3 linked regions of the Homo sapiens genome follow. The protein of the gene in region 1 purifies or fractionates together with the protein of each later gene. This does not show direct contact. Each region holds a gene or a part of one and is shown in the gene's direction. Other genes may lie near its edges.

What was found. The genes of interacting proteins can lie anywhere in the genome.
Region 2: the proteins of TSKS (region 1) and UTF1 purify together in Homo sapiens (affinity purification with mass spectrometry; 2 studies listed by BioGRID and IntAct, with this or other methods). This does not show direct contact.
Region 3: the proteins of TSKS (region 1) and RGPD5 purify together in Homo sapiens (affinity purification with mass spectrometry, with the first as the bait; 2 studies listed by BioGRID). This does not show direct contact.

Annotation. Positions count from the first base shown.
Region 1 is NC_000019.10:49,746,283-49,753,310, reverse strand, and holds part of TSKS (testis-specific serine kinase substrate), read left to right. Parts: intron 1-3,143; exon of another isoform or gene 3,144-3,249; intron 3,250-4,820; exon of another isoform or gene 4,821-4,841; coding exon 4,842-4,937; exon of another isoform or gene 4,938-5,142; coding exon 5,143-5,226; intron 5,227-5,838; coding exon 5,839-5,922; intron 5,923-6,512; coding exon 6,513-6,841; intron 6,842-7,028. UniProt on the Homo sapiens protein: May play a role in testicular physiology, most probably in the process of spermatogenesis or spermatid development.
Region 2 is NC_000010.11:133,225,349-133,232,065, forward strand, and holds UTF1 (undifferentiated embryonic cell transcription factor 1), read left to right. Parts: upstream 1-4,868; 5' UTR 4,869-4,940; coding exon 4,941-5,490; intron 5,491-5,618; coding exon 5,619-6,094; 3' UTR 6,095-6,210; downstream 6,211-6,717.
Region 3 is NC_000002.12:109,825,284-109,832,311, forward strand, and holds part of RGPD5 (RANBP2-like and GRIP domain-containing protein 5/6), read left to right. Parts: intron 1-592; coding exon 593-751; intron 752-1,017; coding exon 1,018-1,155; intron 1,156-1,417; coding exon 1,418-1,564; intron 1,565-2,508; coding exon 2,509-2,688; intron 2,689-2,781; coding exon 2,782-2,865; intron 2,866-6,033; coding exon 6,034-6,169; intron 6,170-7,028.

The DNA of each region.
Region 1 (7,028 bases):
GATTACAGGCATGAGCCAACACGCCCGGCCTATTTTATTACTATTTTTTAAGGGATTAGGTTTTACTATGTTGCTCAGGCTGGTCTTGAACTTCTGGGCTCAAGCAGTCCTCCCACCTCATCCTCCCAAATTGTTGGAATTACAGGTGTGAGCTACTGCACCTGGCCTGTAGTTGCTTTTTAAAAAACAGACTTTTCTGAACTATTTCTGTAATATCTGTGTTCTTTGTCATGTTTGGCCACTGAAGTCTCTGTTCTCTAATTTTAGTGGTTAGCTAATGATTGGAGAGACATTTCCTTAAACTGGAACAACAACAAAATCTTCTAGTCTTTGCCAAATGGCACTCTGTGTGCCTGATGAGGCACACCTTTAACACTCAGACAATTTACAACTCTACCTTAGCCTTCCCTTCCTGCTTGTGCAGCGTTTCAAGGTTTCAAGGTCAGCCAGAGGTGAAAAGCTTGGGGCCTTCTCAGAACTTTCCCAAGCATGTACACAACCCTACACAGGCCAATGGCTTTCTACATTCCCAGGAATTTGTTGGAACATTTCAAGGCTTCTACAGATATGTCCATCAGATTTTCCTTTTAAGATTTTTTGCTTTTTATTGTTTACCCCAACTGTTATCCATTGCCTTCGGCAGTAGCAACATTAAAACAAGCGTAAAATTTTTTTTTCTTTACAAATGTTCCCTCTCCCACTCCATGTTAGTCCATTCTTGCATTGCTATAAAGGAATACTCAAGGCTGGGTATAAATAAAAGAGGTTTAACTGGCTTATGGTTCACAGGCTATCTGATAAACATGGTGCCAACATCTGCTCAGCTTTTGGTGAGGGCCTCATAGCAAAAGGTGATGGAGCCAGCATATCACCTGGCAAGAGCAGGAGCAAGGAGATGCCACACAAGTTTTTTTTTTTTTTTTTTTTGAGATGGAGTTTTGCTCTGTTGCCCAGGCTGGAGAGCAGTGGCATGATCTCGGTTCACTGCGACCTCCACCTCCCGGGTTCAAGCGATTCTCCTGCCTCAGCCTCCCAAGTAGCTGGGACTACAGGCATGCATCACTATTCCTGGCGAATTTTTGTATTTTCAGTAGAGTCGGGCTTTCGCCATGTTGGCCAGGCTAGTCTTGAATTCCTGACCTCAGGTGATCTGCCCACCTTGGCCTCCCAGAGTGCTGGGATTACAGGTGTGAACCACCACGCTCAGCCTGGGAGTTACATTTTTTTGTTGTTGTTTTTGAGACAGGATCTCAGTGTCATCCAGACTGGAGTGCAGTGGCGCAATCTCGGCTCACTGCAACATCCACCTCCCAGGTTCAAGCGATTCTTCAACCTCAGCCTCCTGAGGAGCTGGGACTACAGGTGCACACCACCACACCTGGCTACTTTTTTTTTTTTTTTTTTTTTTTTTGTAGAGTTGGGGTCTCACCATGTTGTCCAGGCTGCTCTCAAACTCCTGAGCTCAAGTGAACCTCCTGCCTCAGCCTCCCAAAGTGCTGGGATTACAGGTGTGAGCCACTGTGCCTGGCAAGGGATGACATTTTAACATGAGATTTGGAGAGGACAAACATCCAAATCTTTCCTTCAACTATCAGAGATGCTTTCACGGCTTTGCCAGTTCTGAAAAGGAAAGACAAATATTCTGTGTGGGGTCTTCCCAGGCATCACTTAACAATCATAGAATGACTCTTCTTTGGGTTATGAGGCTTTGAATGAGTTCTAGCTTCATTCTGCTTCCTCCCTGTGGGAAATGTGGGCTGTTATTTTCCAGGGTTCCTGCTGAGCTAGGGAGTGGGAGATAGGACTAGGATAAGTTAAAATTCCTCAAGTCTTGCCGTTTTTTATCGAGAGTCACTTTTCTTGAATAAATGCTCTTTGAGTTGCTGCAAGCCTTTGGTTAATTTCCAGAATTGTGAACAAACTGCTTCTTATGGTTTTTGTTAGTTTTTTCATTGTTTTTATGGAGGGGTGGAATTTTTGAATTCCTTTTTTTTTTTTTTTTTTTTTTTGAGATGGAATCTCGTTGTCGCCCAGGCTGGAGTGCAATGGCGCCATCTAGGCTCTCTGCAACCTCCGCCTCCTGGATTCAAGCGATTCTCCTGTGTCAGCCTCCCAAGTAGCTGGGATTACAACTGCCTGCCACCACGCCTGGCTAATTTTTGTATTTTTAGTAGAGACGGGGCTCCACCACGTTGGTCAGGCTGGTCTCGAACTCCTGACCTCAAGTGATCCACCCACCTCGGCCTCCCAAAGTGCTGGGATTACAGGTGTGAGCCACTGTGCCCGGCCTGAATTATTTAATCCACCATTTTGCTGTTGTTAACTGGATACAATATTTCTTATTCCACTTCTTCCCCAGAGCAATCATGCAAGAAATGTGTTGCTGCCTCCATCTCACAAGGGAGGAAACTTATTCTGTCTATCTTTTGTGTATTAGTTCAGCAACCATGAGAGAAACCAAGAGAACTGCTTTTTTGCACATAAAATGCTTGATAAGCTTAGTAGCTCTGCTCTTCAAATGCAGCAGGTTACAGGTGTCTACGTTCTGGTTGCTCAGCCATTTCTAGACAGTTGCTCTCGCCACTGCCTTCCAGCCATTAAGCAGGGGGAACAGGGGAAGAGATCATGCCTGTCTTTTCCACACATCGACCAGTGCCCACTTCCCTTCCATCGGCTGGAACTGGTCATAAACAGCTGGCAGAGGGCTCTCTGGGTCTCTTTTCCTTCAGGTGTGAAATAAGAATGTCAATGATAGGCCGGGCACGGTGGCTTACGCCTGTAATCCCAGCACTTTGGGAGGCCGAGGTGGGTGAATCACGAGGTCAGGAGATCAAGACCATCCTGGCCAACATGGTGAAACCCTGTCTCTACTAAAATACAAAAAATTAGCCTGGTGTGGTGGTGCACGCCCGTAGTCCCAGCTATTCGGGAGGCTGAAGCAGGAGAATGGCTTGAACCTGGGAGTGAGAGGTTGCAGTGAGCCGAGATCATGCCACTGCACTCCAGCCTGACAAAAGAGCAAGACTCTGTCAAAAAAAAAAAAAAAAAGAATGTCAATGATATTGAAGTTATACATTTGACTACTGTAACAAAAAAACACAAAATAACACAGCTTGAATAACACAGAAGATGTAATGTCTCACCCTGAAAGTCTTCACAGGTGGTTGGAATGGAGTATGGTGGCTCCATGTCAAGGATTCAGGCTTCTTCTGTTTCATTGTGTCCTCTATCTGCTGGTCCAAGACAGCCCTCAATTGTGCATTCCAGTGAAATGAGAGAAAAAGGGAAAGTTCTCACTCTTTTCCTATAAGGGATGACTCAGAAATTGACTATAATTCTGCACAGTCTAAGTAATGATGTAGGCTAAAAAAAAAAATAAATAAAAGAGAGAGAAAAAAGGAGGCTGGGCACAGTGGCTCATGCTTGTAAGACCAACACTTACAGGCAGACACAAAAGGATCACTTGAGCCCAGGAGTTTGAGGCCAGCTTGGGTAACGTAGTGAGAACCCATCTATACCAAACATCTTAAAATTTTGCTGGGCATGGTAGCAAGCACCTATACTCTTAGCAACTTGGGAGGCTGAGGCAAGAGGATCATTTCAGCCCAGGAGCTGGTGAGCTATGATAGTACCGCTCCACACCAGCCAGGGTAATAATGAGAGACCCCCCACACACACACACCTCCCCCAAAAATAAATTGACTACATTATTTCCACTCACATTCCATTGGCCAGAACTTAGTCACATGGCCACACCTAGCTGCAAGGAAACCTGGGAAATGTAGTCTCTGGTTGGGCAGTCATGTGCCAGGCTAAGGCTTCTGTAACTGTCCAAGCTGGGAGAATGGATCCTACCACATGCATCCCTCCTGAACCACGGATTGGCAGGAGTCGCACAACACTTTATGTGATATAAAGTAATGATGACCAGAGGCCACATGGTGTCATGGTTTAAAACAAGCGTTCTGAATCTAGATTCTGATGAGATCACCTAATGTGCTGAGTGCTTGGGAAGACAAGGGATATCCCATTTCTGAGACCCATTTGTCTCACTTGTAAAATAGGCCAAATAACCTCAAGAGGCGGAGTTGTGAAGAATAAAAGACAAGACAAGTGCTTGGTGCATAGCAAGTGTTCATATCTGAAAAGTGGCTTCCTTTGTAATTCACCAGTTCCTGGAGAGAAAGGGCATGTGTTTTCAAAGTTTCTCTTTTTAAGCTGTGGACCCCAAGGACTTTTTTTTTTCTTTAGACGGAGACTCGCTCTGTCGCCCAGATTGGAGTACGGTGGTGCAATCTCAGCTCACTGCAGCCCCTGCTTCCCAGGTTCAAGCAATTCTCCTGCCTCAGCCTCCCAAGTAGCTGGGATTAAAGGCACCACCACGCCTAGCTAATTTTTGTATTTTTAGTAGAGTTGGGGTTTCACCATGTTGGCCAAGTTGGTCTTGAACTCCTGACCTCAAGTGATCCACCCACCTCGGCCTCCCAAAGTGCTGGGATTACCAGAGTGAGCCACGGCACCTGGCCCCCAAGGACATTTAGCTCAGTGTTTGGTTGAGTCCATCCTTCTTCCTCCACATGTCTGAGCACCCCACCTCCATCCCCCTTTCCCTCCTGGATCCTATTTTTCTCCCAGCCCACCATGAAGAAAGGTCGTTTATGCCCTGGGTTTGCCGCGCAGGAATGCTAAGAATCAGAGGTATAGCCCTTGGCTCCAAGTCACATAGCCATTCCAGGGCAAAATCAAGGTGTAAACACAGCCTCCCAGTTCTGGAATTCTTCCTGGGCTTGGGGCTTGCCCCCACATACCCACTAACTCACCTGTCTCCCATTCTTCCCCAGAGTGGGGTCAACAGTGGATTGGTCCGCGCCAAAGACTCCATCACCAGCTTGAAGGAAAAGACCAACCGGGTTAACCAGCACGTGCAGTCTCTGCAGGTGTGAGGACCCCCTATATCCAACACCTGCCCTTCCTCCAGGGCCAAGTTCCCTTCTTGGAGCCTGCCTCCAGCAGAATGCACCCATAGCTCAGTTGGGGAGCTTGAGGCTCAGAAAGAAAAGGAACCTTCCCAGGCCCAGATCTTCTTTTCCACAGGCTGTCCCCTCGTGTCCTTGGCTAACCTCTCCTCCTTCCATGCTCCAGAGCGAGTGTTCTGTGCTGAGCGAGAATCTGGAGAGAAGGCGGCAAGAGGCAGAAGAGTTGGAGGGGTACTGCATTCAACTCAAGGTGAGCCAGTGGGACGCAGGAATGGATGGGGAGAGGGGAATGGGAGTAAGAAGAGGGTGGGAGAAAGAGGGGAGGAGGCTGGGTGCAGTGGCTCACATCTGTAATCCCAGCACTTTGGGAGGCCGAGGCAGGCAGATCACCTGAGGTCAGGAGTTTGAGACCAGCCTGGCCAACATGGTGAAACCCCATCTCTACTAAAAATACAAAAATTAGCCAGGTGTGGTGGCGGGCGCCTGTAATCTCAGCTACTTGGGAGGCTGAGGCAGAAGAATTGCTTGAATCCACGAGGTGGAAGTTGCAGTGAGCCAAGATTGCGCCACTGCACTCCAGCCTGGCCGACAGAGCGAGACTCAGTCTCAAAAGAAAAAAAGAAAAGAAAGAGGAGAAATGGAATGGGTGGACCGAAGAGAGGTGGGAGGAAGTGGAGGGGTGCCACTCTGGCACATCTGGCTAAGGAGGAAGCCATCCCCTTAGCCAAGGAAATGAGCTGGTGAGTGTGTCTTGTACTGGGGGGCTAGGAGGCCTGGAGCCTGGATGGAAACAGACAGGCTAAGGGTTGGGAGGCAGAACTGGAATGGGAAGGCAGGGCCCTCGCCCTGGTGTCTGACCCAGGAGAACTGCTGGAAGGTGACCCGGTCTGTGGAAGATGCTGAAATCAAAACCAACGTCTTGAAGCAGAATTCTGCCCTGCTGGAGGTAAGGGCTAGGGGGCAGTCCCAGGATTTGTGGGAGGAGGTCAGATGCACGAGGGACTCAAGATACACTTTTAGGTGGAACTCCCTGCCCCGACACCACCACCACACTGCACCTTCGTGCACATAGTCATCCTTAGAACTCGCTGATAAGAGGGATTCAAATGAGGCTCCAACACCCAGATGGGGGACTCTTGCCCTGCAGTCACATTCAGGTCCCAGAAAGAGAATCGAGCTGGACTTCAGGTGAGAAGGCCCGTCCTGTCCACATGCCCACTCATTTTCCAACAAAATGCTGAGAAAGCTTCAGTTGTTCTTGCCAAGTGGCCGGGACTGGTATTTGACGCCTGGAGGGCTTGGAGGGCCGGGTGGATACCTGGAGGCAGGCTGTGGGAGGTTAGCGGGAATTGGAGTCCAACTGGGCCTCAAATGGTGCCTCCCCTCCCTAATGACAGCCAGTGAGACTTCCAACATACTGTCCCCACAGGCGTTCTACTTCCAATCTCGGGGAGTACTGGAGCGGATTTTGGGGTGGAGGTGGTTGCGGGAGGAAAGCGGCTGGACGCTGTGACCCCGTCCTCCCTTACCACCCAGGAGAAGCTGCGCTACCTCCAGCAGCAGCTGCAGGATGAGACGCCGCGACGGCAGGAGGCCGAGCTGCAGGAGCCGGAGGAGAAGCAGGAGCCGGAGGAGAAGCAGGAGCCGGAGGAGAAGCAGAAGCCGGAGGCTGGCCTCTCCTGGAACAGCCTGGGCCCCGCCGCCACGTCCCAGGGCTGCCCCGGCCCGCCAGGGAGTCCCGACAAACCCTCGCGGCCACACGGCCTGGTCCCCGCAGGCTGGGGAATGGGGCCTCGGGCTGGCGAGGGCCCCTACGTGAGCGAGCAGGAATTGCAGAAGCTGTTCACCGGCATCGAAGAGCTGAGGTGGGCGGGACCTAGGGGCGGAGCCTCGAAAACGAGATCGGCGGGGACTCAGGGGTGGAGCCTCGAGGAGATGCGGTGGGCGGGACCCAAGGGACGGGGGTTCTCAAGTAGCTGAGGTGGGCGGTGACATGGGTGGAGCCTCGGGGACCTGAGGTGGGCGGGAACATGGGAGGAGCCTCGAGGAACG
Region 2 (6,717 bases), on another chromosome or scaffold:
GCCAAAGCTGACCTCTGAGTGGCCAACTGCAGCTCCCAGGGACTCCGAGACCTCCGGTCCGAGACCCTGCCTGGGTTCACCCCCCACAACCCAGACCCAGAACCGCTCTCCCCTTCCCTGCCCAGTGCCCCTCCTCCCCAGCCCAGACCCCCAGGTGCCCAAGGCCTGCTGCTGGAGCAGGCACCTTGGGCTGGGCCTGCTCCCCCAGGGCCCAGGGCCCCCCAGCTTAGAACAGCCCTTGGTGAGGTGGTCATGCCCGGGCAAAGGCCCTGCTTCCTGGAAAGGACACTCAGAGCAGCTCCAAGACAGAGGCTCTGTGGCGGGGGTCCCTGAGAGTGCCCCCACCCATCTCATGCCCCAGGGACCGCCACTGCCCACCGCCTCCAGCAGCCATGCATGTGCGCCCGCAGCCCTGCCTCCACAGCTCGCCACACACTCACGCTTCGCCAGAGACAGGAAGTGCGCTGCCTCCACGGCCCCTTGCCCTTGCTCAGGTTCTTGGACCCCAGGCAGCTGGTGTGGAGCCCCTTGGCCAGGGCCATGGGAGTCCCGCGCAGTCAGCTCCACATTGGCCTCTGCAGCTGGGTGACCAGAGCCCCGGGCACGGCCCCAGCTCCGTGGGGCTCTCACGGTGCCAATCACAAGACCCAGGGTTGTGCTTTTGAGTTTTAGAATTAGTCATTCTTTAGAGCAGCCAGCTAGTGGCATTTCTAGGAAAACTGTGACCTGTGACAAATCGCTGCATTTTTAATGTCAAGATGTGTTTTCCCACATAAATTCACCGGAGACATCCGGGCCCCGCTTCGATGTAACATGAGAGGAAGTCGGCGTCCTGGCCACGAAATGCAGTTCACTTTTTTTTAGGCTTTTATATGGATTATGTTTTGCTGACCCACGCCCGCATTTTCAGATTTTGTATCTAACAGACAGTGCTCAGTGCAAATCAACATTCCAGCGGTCAGGACTGACCCCGGGGCAGCACTGGGCTCAGGCTTCAGCGCGACTGTCCGCATGGCTCCCTCCCGTCCTGGCACCAATTTCTGAATAAAGTCCTTTCTACCAGCTGCTGCTGTGTGGTCACTCTGCGGGTCCCCACGGTGACCTCTGCAGGTCGACACGTTTTCCTTCATGGCCGCACGAAGGCCCCTTACAGGTGCTCACAAGGACTCCAGGTGCGAGATGTGCTCAACCCAGGACTGAAAACGAATCTGCCGGTCCACAGCGACGCCCTCTGATGCCGCAGAGAAAGGCCCGGGCCTGCCAGACGTGTGTCACAACTCAGGCCCCGCCAGGAGGAAAGCTACCGCCAGCACTCCCAGGCCGTGGGAACAAGCAAACGCACCGGCTGGGGCAGGAAACACTTGCTTCTGGTTGTGACTGCAAACAGCCTAAAAGAACGGACTCCCGTAACCACGCTCCTGTGTGCGCACATCCAGGCTCGCCCTCCATTGACAAAAAGGACGTCCCTCATGCTGGATGTGCAGTGTCTTCATCCAAGATCAGGACGGGCGTCTGTCCATCAGTTCTTACAGGCTATTTGCACAGACCCACGGCTGTTCTTGGGTCAATCTGCGCTAAACTCTGCCCAACCCAGCCAGTTCCCACCTGGCAGCCCTGTGGGCAAGACAGAGCTGGGTCCCCCGTCATCACGGTGCAAGCTCGCCGTAACTCTGACCACAGTGGAGCAGGAGGCCAGGACGGGGAGCTCCTGCAGGTGGGGCTTGTGGCCCGGGAAAGGACACTCTCACGGTTGTCACAGGGTAAGACTGGTGGACACCACTCAGGGAGGGGCTCACAGCCAGGGCTTCCAATGGTTTTGGGGTTGTAAACTGTGGATGCTTTTGGGAAAAGAGCTGATGGGTCTTTCGGGAAGTTCCCGTGATGAACGGTGCGGTTATCCGCCTGGAGGGAGGCCCAGGAGAAGCCGAGAAGACAAGATGGTGGAGTCCAATTGTGCTGGACAGGAGCTGCCCGAGACAGGGGGCCCTGGTCCTGGTCATGTGTGCGTCCTCGCCCCCACGCCATGCAGGCCGGACCCCTCACTGCAGTGGCTCCAATAAATTCAGCTCCGCTGAGCACAGGACTTTTCTCTTAGAGAGCTGACAGCCAGCAACCTCATGAGCCTCGCTTCTCGGCGCCATCCACTCCCCGGCTCTGTCCCCCACGCCGCCATCCACTCCCCGGCTCTGTCCCCCACGCCGCCATCCACTCCCCGGCTCTGTCCCCCACGCCGCCATCCACTCCCCGGCTCTGTCCCAGACGGGTTCAAGGCAGGCTGTGCTGTGCACTGCAGTGCCACTGTGGGCTAGACAGTCTGCGCTGGCGTCCTGTGCACCATCATCTCTGATCTCCACCCATCAGATGCCCCCAGCACCCCCAACCCTCAGTTATTAAAAATCTTTTTTTTTTTTTTGAGACAGAGTCTCACTCCGTCACCTAGGCTGGAATGCAGTGGTGCGATCTTGGCTCACTGCAACCTCCACCTCTTGGGTTCAAGCGATTCTCCTGCCTCAGCCTCCTGAGTAGCTGGGACTACAGACACATGCCACGACACCCAGCTAATTTTTTGTATTTTTAGTAGAGACGGGTTTCACTGTGTTAGCCAGGATGGTCTCAATCTCCTGACCTCGTGATCCGCCCGCCTCGGCCCCCCAAAGTGCTGGGTGTCAACAGGCTTGAGCCACGCGCCCAGCCTTTTTTTTTTTTTTAGATCCACCTCCCAGGTTCAAGCAATTCTCCTGCCTCAGCCTCCCTAGAAGCTGGGATTACAGGTGCACATCCAACGCCTCGCTAATTTTTGTATTTTTAGTAGAGATGGGGTTTCACCATGTTGGCCAGGCTGGTCTCAGACTCCTGACCTCAGGTGATCCGCCTGCCTCAGCCTCCCAAAGTGCTGGGATTACAGCCACCACGCCTGCACGCCCCCCTTTTCTTTTTAAGACAGAGTCTTGCCCTGTCACCCAGGCAGGAGTGCAGTCAGGTCATCACGGTACACTGCAGGCTTAACCTCCTGAGCAAAAGGACATCCTCCCGCCTCAGCCTCCCAAGTAGCTGGAACTACAGGCACCTGCTACTACACTCGGCTATTTTTTATTTTTTTGCAGAGATGGGGGTCTCACTATATTGCCCAGGTCAGTCTCAAACTCCTGGCCTCAGGAGATCTGCCCACCTCAGCCTCCCAAAGTGCTAGGAATACAGGTGTGAGCCCCGTGTATGAGTGCCTGGCCAGGAACCACAGATTTCTTGAGAAGTGTCTGAAAAGCTGATTCTAGGACCAGGGTCGGCAAAGGACCAGATGAGGCAGGAGCATCCTGTATTGCCAGGGAGCTGGGAGGGGGTTTCAAAAGGACAAGGAAGAGAGGAGGAGGTGAGAAGACTTTCAATGGCCAAAGCAGGAACGATATGCGCAAAAATACAAATAAAAGCCCGGCACAGGGGCTCACTCCTGTAATCTCAGCACATTGGGAGGCCCAGGCAGGAGGATCACTTGAGCCCAGGAGTTCAAGACGAGCCTAGGCAACATAGCAAGACCCTGTCCCTACAAAAAGTAAAAAAAAAAAAAAAAAACTAGGTGCGTGTGGTGGTGCACACATGTAGTCCCAGCTACCAAGGAAGCTGAGGCTGGAGGATCACTTGGGCCCAAGAGTTCAAGGCTACAGTGAGCTGTGATCAGGCCACTGCACTCCAGCCTGAGTGACAGAAAGAGACCCCATTTGTAAAAAATAATAAAAACAAACAGAACTTTTAAAACAAATAAATAATAACAGCATCGGGTTATGACCTAAAGGATAAAATAAATATACACGAGCCCACACTGTAGAAATAAATGACTGAGTAAATAAATCAACAGGCAGAGAGACAAACCTTACAGAAGAATCCCAGAAAATACAGACACCCCTCCAGGAGGTGGGGCCTAATTACTCTCCCCATGAGTTGGGGATGGGCTGAGGGGCCGGATTCCAGTGACCAGAGCAGGGATGGAAAGGCGATACCTGAAGACTGCAAGAGTGGCAGACAGTCCGCACCCCAGCACGGAGCAGACCTCACCGGTGCTGAGCCACAAGACAGGAGGGGCGAGACTCCACCCCTGCGCCTTCCTTCCTAAAACCCACCACCCTAGTCGGATCACAGGAAGACACCAGGCAAACCCAAGTCGAGGAACATTCAACAAAACACCTGGCCCGTCCTCAACCGTGTCGAGGACGCGAGAAGCTGCCACGGCCCAGAGGAGACCCAGGAGACAGAAGGACTCGGCGCCGTGCGGCAAGGAGGAAGAGCATTTAATAGGAAGAGAATTTCCTCCTCCCAGGGATGCTGGCTGCAGACGCGCTGCAGATGGAAGAAGTTCAGATTTTAAAAGCTACTTCTGCGAGCGCGTGAATTCCGACACCCATTCCCGCGGCTGGCGTGGCTTCTCCTCGGACCCATCCCCTGGCCTGGCGACTCCCCCTGGGACCCGGGTCGGTCCTCCGGACCCCTCGCGTGCAGGTGCTGAGCCCGGGCGGGGGCGGCGGGGGCGGGGGCAGCACTGGGGGCCGGACAAGGGGGCGCCAGCGCCTTCCGGAGCGGGAGGGGCTCCGCACACACCTCGACGGGGGCGGGGGTAGGCTCGGCACAGGCTAAAAACGAGCGGAGCCGCCGGGGCTTAGGCATCGCGGCACCTCCGTTGAACGGGTCTAAGAACAGAACTCCTGAGGACCCTCCGTTTCCAACCGAAGCCAGTCTTTGCTCTGCGTCTTCCCGGCCGCAGCGCCAGGACCGACCCCTTAGGACCCGGCGGGCGGGGCGGGGCGCGCGGGGCGGGGCGGGGATGGTGGGAGGGTCGCGTAGACCCGGCTGGGACGGAGGGACGGCGGCGCGGGATGCTCAGAACGCGTGTGGGCGGCCCGGGCGGCGTCTGGCCCTCTCCCCATCCTCGCGCGCCGCGCCCCAGCCCCGGGATGCTGCTCCGGCCCCGCAGGCCGCCCCCGCTCGCGCCCCCCGCGCCGCCCTCGCCCGCCAGCCCCGACCCCGAGCCGCGGACACCCGGAGACGCCCCGGGGACCCCGCCCCGGAGGCCCGCCTCGCCCAGCGCGCTGGGGGAACTCGGGTTGCCGGTGTCCCCGGGCTCGGCGCAGCGCACGCCCTGGAGCGCCCGGGAGACGGAGCTGCTGCTGGGGACGCTGCTGCAACCGGCCGTGTGGCGCGCGCTGCTCCTGGACCGCCGCCAGGCCCTGCCCACCTACCGCCGCGTGTCGGCCGCGCTGGCCCAGCAGCAGGTGCGCCGCACCCCCGCGCAGTGCCGCCGCCGCTACAAGTTCCTTAAAGACAAGTTTCGCGAGGCGCACGGCCAGCCGCCCGGGCCCTTCGACGAGCAGATCCGGAAGCTCATGGGGCTGCTGGGCGACAACGGGCGCAAACGGCCTCGCCGCCGCTCCCCGGGGTCCGGGCGCCCCCAGCGCGCCCGCCGCCCGGTCCCCAACGCGCACGCGCCGGCTCCCAGCGAACCAGGTAGGCGGGGGACTGGGGGGCCAGGTGGGGCCGAGGACTGCGGAGGAACCGGGGGCTGCCGAGGGCTGCGGGGGAGGGGCGGGCGCGCCCCGCGAAAATCCGCCCGACCGCCTGCTCCGCGTTCCCAGACGCCACCCCGCTGCCCACCGCCCGCGACCGCGACGCGGACCCCACCTGGACGCTCCGCTTCAGCCCGTCCCCACCGAAGTCTGCGGACGCCTCCCCCGCCCCCGGCTCCCCGCCAGCTCCCGCCCCGACCGCCCTCGCCACCTGCATCCCCGAGGACCGCGCGCCCGTCCGCGGCCCCGGGTCCCCGCCGCCACCCCCGGCCCGCGAAGACCCCGACTCGCCGCCCGGCCGCCCCGAGGACTGCGCGCCCCCTCCGGCCGCGCCCCCGTCGCTGAACACCGCCCTGCTGCAGACCCTGGGGCACCTGGGCGACATCGCGAACATCCTGGGCCCGCTGCGCGACCAGCTGCTGACCTTGAACCAGCACGTGGAGCAGCTGCGCGGCGCCTTCGACCAGACAGTGTCCCTGGCCGTGGGCTTCATTCTGGGCAGCGCGGCCGCCGAGCGAGGGGTCCTCAGGGACCCGTGCCAGTGAGTCCCGGCTGCGGCCAGTCTCCCCTCTCCAGGCCGAGGCCCCTCCGCCCTGACCCCTCCTGCTGCCTTCCCACCCCCGTTCTTGGGTATGTTCAATAAAAGGATTGTTTTCCTAGAGTCCGGGCTGTGTAGGAGTGCGGGTCTGGAGACGGGGAGGGAGTGGCGCCCTGCAGTGCTGGGGCTGCAAAGGTCAGGGCAGGGTTGCGACGCTCTCATCACAGAGAGGGGCTCCCACTCGCTCCTAAGGTGTAGACAGAGCTCCGTGGGGCGCACCCAAATGTAGGCCGAGGAGGCCAGGCTCGAGGGTGGTGGGCGTGGTGCCTGCTGCCGGGTCCTGGTCACACACTCGGTTCTCAAGGCCACACCAGACTCTCCCTGCCCCTCCCGGGGAGCCCCACTGAGTAAAACGAAGTGAACGGGTGGGCTCCGCTGGGGGTCCGGAGAGAACCTGAGGCTGACCCCACCTCTTCACTCAATGCAGGGGTAGGGGTTAGAGTGGTCGCCTCCACACTGCCCAGCAGAGAACCCCCTTTGACCCAGGAGTAGCATGGGGGGTTCCGAAGGTCCTCCCATGGCCTCGGGCAGCCTTGGACCACCCGGCTGAACTCTCCCAGGTCCTGGGAA
Region 3 (7,028 bases), on another chromosome or scaffold:
GGTGTGTTTTGTGTCACCATTAGGTGTAGATGGTCAGCCTTTTGAACAAACTGACACTACAGAAGAGGCAGGTTTCAGCTATCTAAAAAGGACAACTGTTAAAAAGTAGTTTGGATTGCTACGTTAGAGTGGTATCATTAGAAGCATTTAAAAGTTGAGTGTAGAGGCCGGGTGCGGTGGCTCACACCTGTAATCCCAGCACGTTAGGAGGCCGAGGCGGGCAGATCACAAGGTCAGGAGGTCGAGATCATTCCTGGCTAACACGGTGAAACCCCGTCTCTGCTAAAAATACAAAAAAAAACTCTACTAAAACTACAAAATTAGCCAGACATGGTGGCAGGTGCCTGTAATCCCAGCTACTTGGGAAGCTGAGGCAGGAGAATTGCTTGAACCTGCACGGCAGAGGTTGCAGTGAGTTCACTGGTATTAAGGTGGTTTAGTTATTACAGTATTTGGAAGTTGAACAAATGACTATTGAGGTACCATTTGGTTTTGACTTGAAATTTTAGCCAGTTCTTACAACTTGTAAATGAACTTTAGATCTAATCATGCGTGTTCCTTAAAGTTGTGTGCTTTTAACTTTCTTTTTTAGGGCAGCGGTCTTAATTCTTTTTATGGTCAACTAGAATACATAGGGAGAAGTGTTCATTATTGGAAGAAAGTTTTGCCATTGTTGAAGATAATAAAGAAGAACAGTATTCCTGAACCTATTGATCCTCTGTTTAAACATTTTCATAGTGTAGACATTCAGGTAACAGAGTTCCTTTATGAATTTATTGGAGATGGGAATTTCCAGTTTATAAACAAAGACGTGGAGCTATAAACTGCTTAAATTAATTGCCTTGTTATTTAACGGTAATCTTGTTTTCTAAATTCACTAGCTCTCACAGATAAGATATGACAGAGAAGAGTAATGAGATGTTTGTCTCTTAAGATCATATAAAATCTTTGGAAAATCATTTGGGTTTTATATTCTGAGTATAAACAATTTGACTAAAAACTATTCTATGTGTTTAGGCATCAGAAATTGTTGAATATGAAGAAGACGCACACATAACTTTTGCTATGTTGGATGCAGTAAATGGAAATATAGAAGATGCTGTGACTGCTTTTGAATCTATAAAAAGTGTTGTTTCTTATTGGAATCTTGCACTGGTAAGTAGATGCAGTACTTGAGCTAAAAGTTGTATTTATTTATTTATTATTTTTTTTAAAAGACGGGGTTTCTCTGTTGGCCAGGCTAGAGTGCAGTGGCACAATCTTGGCTCACTGCAACCTCTGCTTCCCAGGCTCAAGCGATTCTTGTGCCTCAGCTCCCGAGTTGCTGGGATTACAGGCATGAGCCACCATGCGTGGCCAAGCTGAAAGTTTTTTGTTTTAAAAAGCTAATGATTTCATGAAAGCACTATTTGTATAGATTTTTCACAGGAAGGCAGAAGACATTGAAAATGATGCCCTTTCTCCTGAAGAACAAGAAGAATGCAGAAATTATCTGACAAAGACCAGGGACTACCTAATAAAGATTATAGATGACGGTGATTCAAATCTTTCAGTGGTCAAGAAAGTAAGTAGCAGGTTGTTGTATGTACGTTCTTACTGATAACCCACTGGTCAGTGTTTTTGCGTTGGTCTTATATTTTGGTAATTTCAAAAATACTCAGTAATATGTTGTTATTAATGCACAGAAGGGATGCGTGTGTCTAAATGCTTAGATTTGCTTGCTTTGTCTTAGGTTTGGTGTGTCTTTTTAAACTTGGGAATCTAGGTATATGCTCTTAAAAAGTACTTCTTGGGGAATTAGAAAAGATTTCTAAGATAAGACATTGATTTTGTTATCTTAGCAGTGTAATCAAAACAAATATTATAACCTCAGGACTAATTCTTAATGAACTTTGCTGAAATTGAAAGTTGTTGCTGACAACTTAAGAGCATTTCTTCTCATCGTCATCAGCCATTATGAACGCCCTTGTTTTCTTGCTGTCAGCTGTTTGAGATTGTCATGATGATGTTAAATTATGTTCAGTCTTCTGAGTGTTTTGTTGATTAATTTGTGTTACTACTCTTTTATTAGGATTTATGTTGTCTGGTGTATTGTAGCATCTGTATTTCTGTCACCATTGAAAATCAGTTAGAAAACATCAGTAACTTATTTTGTTCACTTGGAAAAGCTTTCCAAGTTAACATTCCTCTACAATTATCATGGTTAACAGAAGTAATAGAAAGAGCATGGACTTTAGAATCAGAAGATGTTAGACTGTACAACACTTTTCTGTGTTCCTGAAGAAAAAAATAGAATAAAGACAAAAAAATAAAAATAATAATACAAAACAACAGAAAAACAAAGAAAAAAGATAATTAAAAAACACTTTCACGTGTATTATTATTTAAAGTGTAAAGTGCTTATTAAAGTGACAAAAATGTAAATAAGATAAAATATATCATTTTAGAGTTTTTACTTTTGGAATTTTTTGCAAATGAAAGCCCTTAATTAATGTCTTTTATTTTTAGTTGCCTGTGCCCCTGGAGTCTGTAAAACAGATGCTTAATTCAGTCATGCAGGAACTCGAAGACTATAGTGAAGGAGGTCCTCTCTATAAAAATGGTTCTTTGCGAAATGCAGATTCAGAAATAAAACATTCTACACCGTCTCCTACCAAATATTCACTATCACCAAGTAAAAGTTACAAGGTAAACAGGAAAGAATGGAATCATTTCATTGTGAAATTGTTTCTGTTCTAAGTGTTTTAAATGCTGTTTTGTTATTTTTATTTTTTTTTTCAGTATTCTCCCGAAACACCACCTCGATGGACAGAAGATCGGAATTCTTTACTGAATATGATTTGCCAACAAGTAGAGGCCATTAAGGTAAGTCACTTAATTTCTCTAGCTGTACTTTTTATTCCAAGATTCCTTCCCTGGCTACTCTCTCACTTTTTTTCTGAAGCTGGTCAGAATGTCCCCTTGCCATCCAAATAGTATGGCAAGGGGACATTTTGGTCTTTTTTTTTTTTTTTTAAGACAAGGGTCTTGTTCTGTTGTGCAGGCTGGAGTACAGTGGTATGATCACAGCTTACTGCGGCTTCAACCTCCTAGCTCAAGAGAGCCTCTTGGCTCAGCCTGCCACGAAGCCAGGACTACAGACAGTCACATGCCACCAGGCCCAGCTAATTGTTGTATTTTTTGTAGAGATGGGATTTTGCCATGTTGCCCAGGGTGGCCTTGAACTCCTGGCTCAAACAATCCTCCTGCTTCAGCCTCCCAAAGTGCTGGGATTGCAGGTGTGAGCCACTGTGCCCAGCCTACATACCTCGGTCTTGACCCTTTACCATATTTTGTTTTGTTTTGTTTTGAGATGGAGTCTCACTCTGTTGCCCAGTCTGGAGTGCAATGGTGTGATCTTGGCTCACTGCAACCTCCACCTCCCAGGTTCAAGTGACTCTCCTGCCTCAGCCTCCCGAGTAGCTGGGATTACAGGCACCCGCCACCAGGCCCAGCTAATTTTTGTATTTTTAGTAGACACAGAGTTTCACCATGTTGGCCAGGCTGGTTTTGAACTTCTGACCTCAGGTGATCTGCCCACCTTGGCCTCCCAAAGTGCTGGGATTACAGGTGTAAACCACCGCACCCAGCCCTTTACCATATTTTTGAAAGTACTTTATGTGTCTCTCTCCTCATCTTCCACAAAATTTGAGACCTTCAAAGGTAGAAACTGTTTTATTTAAAATATAAGAGTTCCTGACACAGAGAAGGTTCCCGAGTGATTGAAGTGCTACAATGTACTAATCATACTCTGGTCTATGAGTTCATTCCCAGATTAGCTGTGGATTACATGTGTTTCAAATGTATAGCTAGGAATCGAAAAGTGGTCTGAGCTTCAAAAAGTCTTACTATATTTTAATACTTCCATATGAATTTGACTTAATTATGTAAGGAAATAGTTATGTATATATATCTTATTTTAACAATAGGGTTCAAAGGAGCTTGACTTTTTTGGAATTGGAAATAAAAGTAGGTTCTTTCATGTTTATCAAGCAAGAACTAAATTACTCATACTGCTAAAGTTACATCAAGGATATGCTGATGTGTGGCGATTATTACAGTGTGATCAGCAGCATTTGCAAATTAAGAGAATACTATTTGGTGGGGAAGACATTTTTGAATTTGCACAAAAATTTTGAATGTTAATTCTGTGTAGTCGTGGCCTATGACAATTACATACAATTTTGACTTAACATACAGGTTTCAGGCTCCCAACATTGTATTCTGTGGAAGTATAGTGGAGCACTAGTCCATGAGCTTGAAAAGCTTGGTACTAGTACTGACTCTGCCATTAATTAATGATCTTGGGCCAGTCACTTCCTTTGTGACTGTTTGGCTTCTTATCTTTAAAATGAGAGAATTATTGAAGCCAGTTCTCATCACACTGAATGTTAAAAATTACAGTTACAGCAGTGATTGCAAATTCAAAGCTCTGGTGCGGATACCAACAGTGACTATAAAGTTTTCTAGGTGATTCCACTAGTTTCTTATTTCTTGGATGTGTATGTGTAGCATCTGGACTAGGCACTGTAGATGGATGAATGGGGGAAATTTTATTTAGCTTGAAAATTGAGATAGTTTTGGACCTCATGGTTAGGTCTTTCTGGGAAATTTTTAATTGAAACACTTGTAGAAACAGAAAGCAGACATGCTAGATCTGTCCCTGACCTCACTTGTTAGAACTGATCGGATTCCTGGGCTGATACAGAGAAGTTTGAAACTTTTCAAAATTTACCTGTTTTCTGATACCACTACAATTTCTTTGGAAAAAGAATTTCCTGTTAAGTGTCTGTTTTGTAAGGGGACATTTTGTAGGTTCTAGGGTGTTGGGTATGGTGCTGTCATTTAGTTTTCTTCAGCAGAGATCAAGTAGCCACATAGCTACACTAGACGGCATTGGATCTATCTGCCATCTTGTCAAGGCAGCAGAGTTGTGTTAAGAAAACATTTTTGGAGTCAGATGTGTTTCAAATTCCAGCTGTTATTCCCTGCATCCGTTTCTCTCATTTTAAGATAGGAGCTAATATTGTTTACCTAACAGTGTAGATGGTGTAAAAATTAAGAGTTTAAGTGCATTGGACGTATTATTATATACATAATAAATTCTCTGCAGCTACTACTTTTTTCCCTTTCCTGGTGGAGCATTTGAACATCACCTTGAGAATTAGTTGTATTTTGTTTGAACACAGGGTTAAGTGAAAAGCTAATTTGGGGAGGTGATTTGGAATGTCAGGTAGTCCAGGTTGCAGTGTAGAAAGAACACACTGAAAGGATGGTCAGTGTAATGTTAGAGGACTGTGAAAGTTGGGGAAAGAAGTTTAGTTTGTAGGTACTTGTTTTTTTGAGCAGGGAATTGTCTTGGCTGGAGGTGAACGTCAGAAAGGTTAATGTAGGCAAGTGTAGAATGGAAATGAAGGTGTGATCATTTAGGAGGTTATTTGTTTAGGTGAGAGAGTTAATGAATTAGGTTTTGTATTAACGAATGAAAATGGGAGCAGATAAATTTTTAACAAATTAAGAATCATATTTTAAAATCAGCACCAGGTACCTAGAACTCTTTGGCAAATAGAAACTTTCAAAAGATATAATCAGGTCCGGGCGTGGTGGGTCACACCTATAATCCCAGCACTTTGGGAGGCTGAGGTGGTGGATCACTTGAGGTCAGGAGTTCAAGACTAGCCTGGCAAACATGGTGAAACCCCATCTCTACTATTATACCAAAAATTAGCCGGGCGTGCTGGCTGACGCCTGTAATCCCAGCTACTCGGGAGGCTGAGGTGGGAGAATTGCTTGAGCCCAGGAGGTGGAGGTTGCGGTGAGCCAAGATTGTGCCATTGCACTCCAGCCTGGACGACAGATCGAGACACCATCTCAAAAAAGAAAAAAAGAAAAAATCAGTTATTTAAATTTAAAAGAGTAAGTTTCCCCAGCACTGTTTCTGGCATGATATAATTAAATGATTAAAATTATTTGATTTTTTTTTTCTTCCAATAGAAAGAAATGCAGGAGTTGAAACTAAATAGCAGTAAGTCAGCATCCCGTCATCGTTGGCCCACAGAGAATTATGGACCAGACTCGGTGCCTGATGGATATCAGGGGTCACAGACATTTCATGGGGCTCCACTAACAGGTGAGCTGGCAAGTGGATAATCGCATATTTTAGTAAAACTACTTTACTTCCCTCTTTTAAGTAGATAACGTGTGAAATCACCTTGTTTATATATGTTTGTTAATATACATGTCAACGTCTGTTTATATGTGACTTCAAAAGCTGTATTAGGTGTTACGGAGATTTTTATAATCCCAAGCAGAAAAAACGAGCCGTATGTGATCACGTGTATATAAAGGCTTAAAGAACACTTAATCCACACCTCAGATGAGCTGAGATGAGATTATTCCTTAAATTGCAAAATGTTATTGAATAGAGTTATGCACTAAGAAATGCTTAATTAAGAACCTACACCTCTGGGGAATTATTTTGATGATAATGATGAGAGGCAGGACGTTATATAGGAAATCTTACTTAATTTGAAATATTATGGTTATATAAAGAAAGAAAAGGAGTTTGGACCTGAATCATACTGGGTTTTTAAGTTCTGCTCTATCACTTACTATAATAGCTGTGTAAGTTAACCTGTCTGAAATGTGGAGATAATACTTGCCTTACATAATTACTATGAGCATTTGTGTATGTGCAGGTGGGCGTGGGTGTGTATCAGACATTTATTAGAGTATACAGTAAACAGTTAATGAACTAAGGTTACTAATAGTGTTTACTGTGGGTTGGCTGTGTGCAAAAGTGCTGTGTGAATGTAATTTGATTTAATTACAGTAACTTAGAATGGCCGGTACCATTATTAATCCCTTTTTTATAAATAAGGAAATGGATAAAGAAAGGTTAGGTAACTTACTCATTATTATACAGCTAGTTATTGATAGAGCCGAGATTCACACTCCAGTGGTGTAACTCCAAAGCACTTGCCAGTATA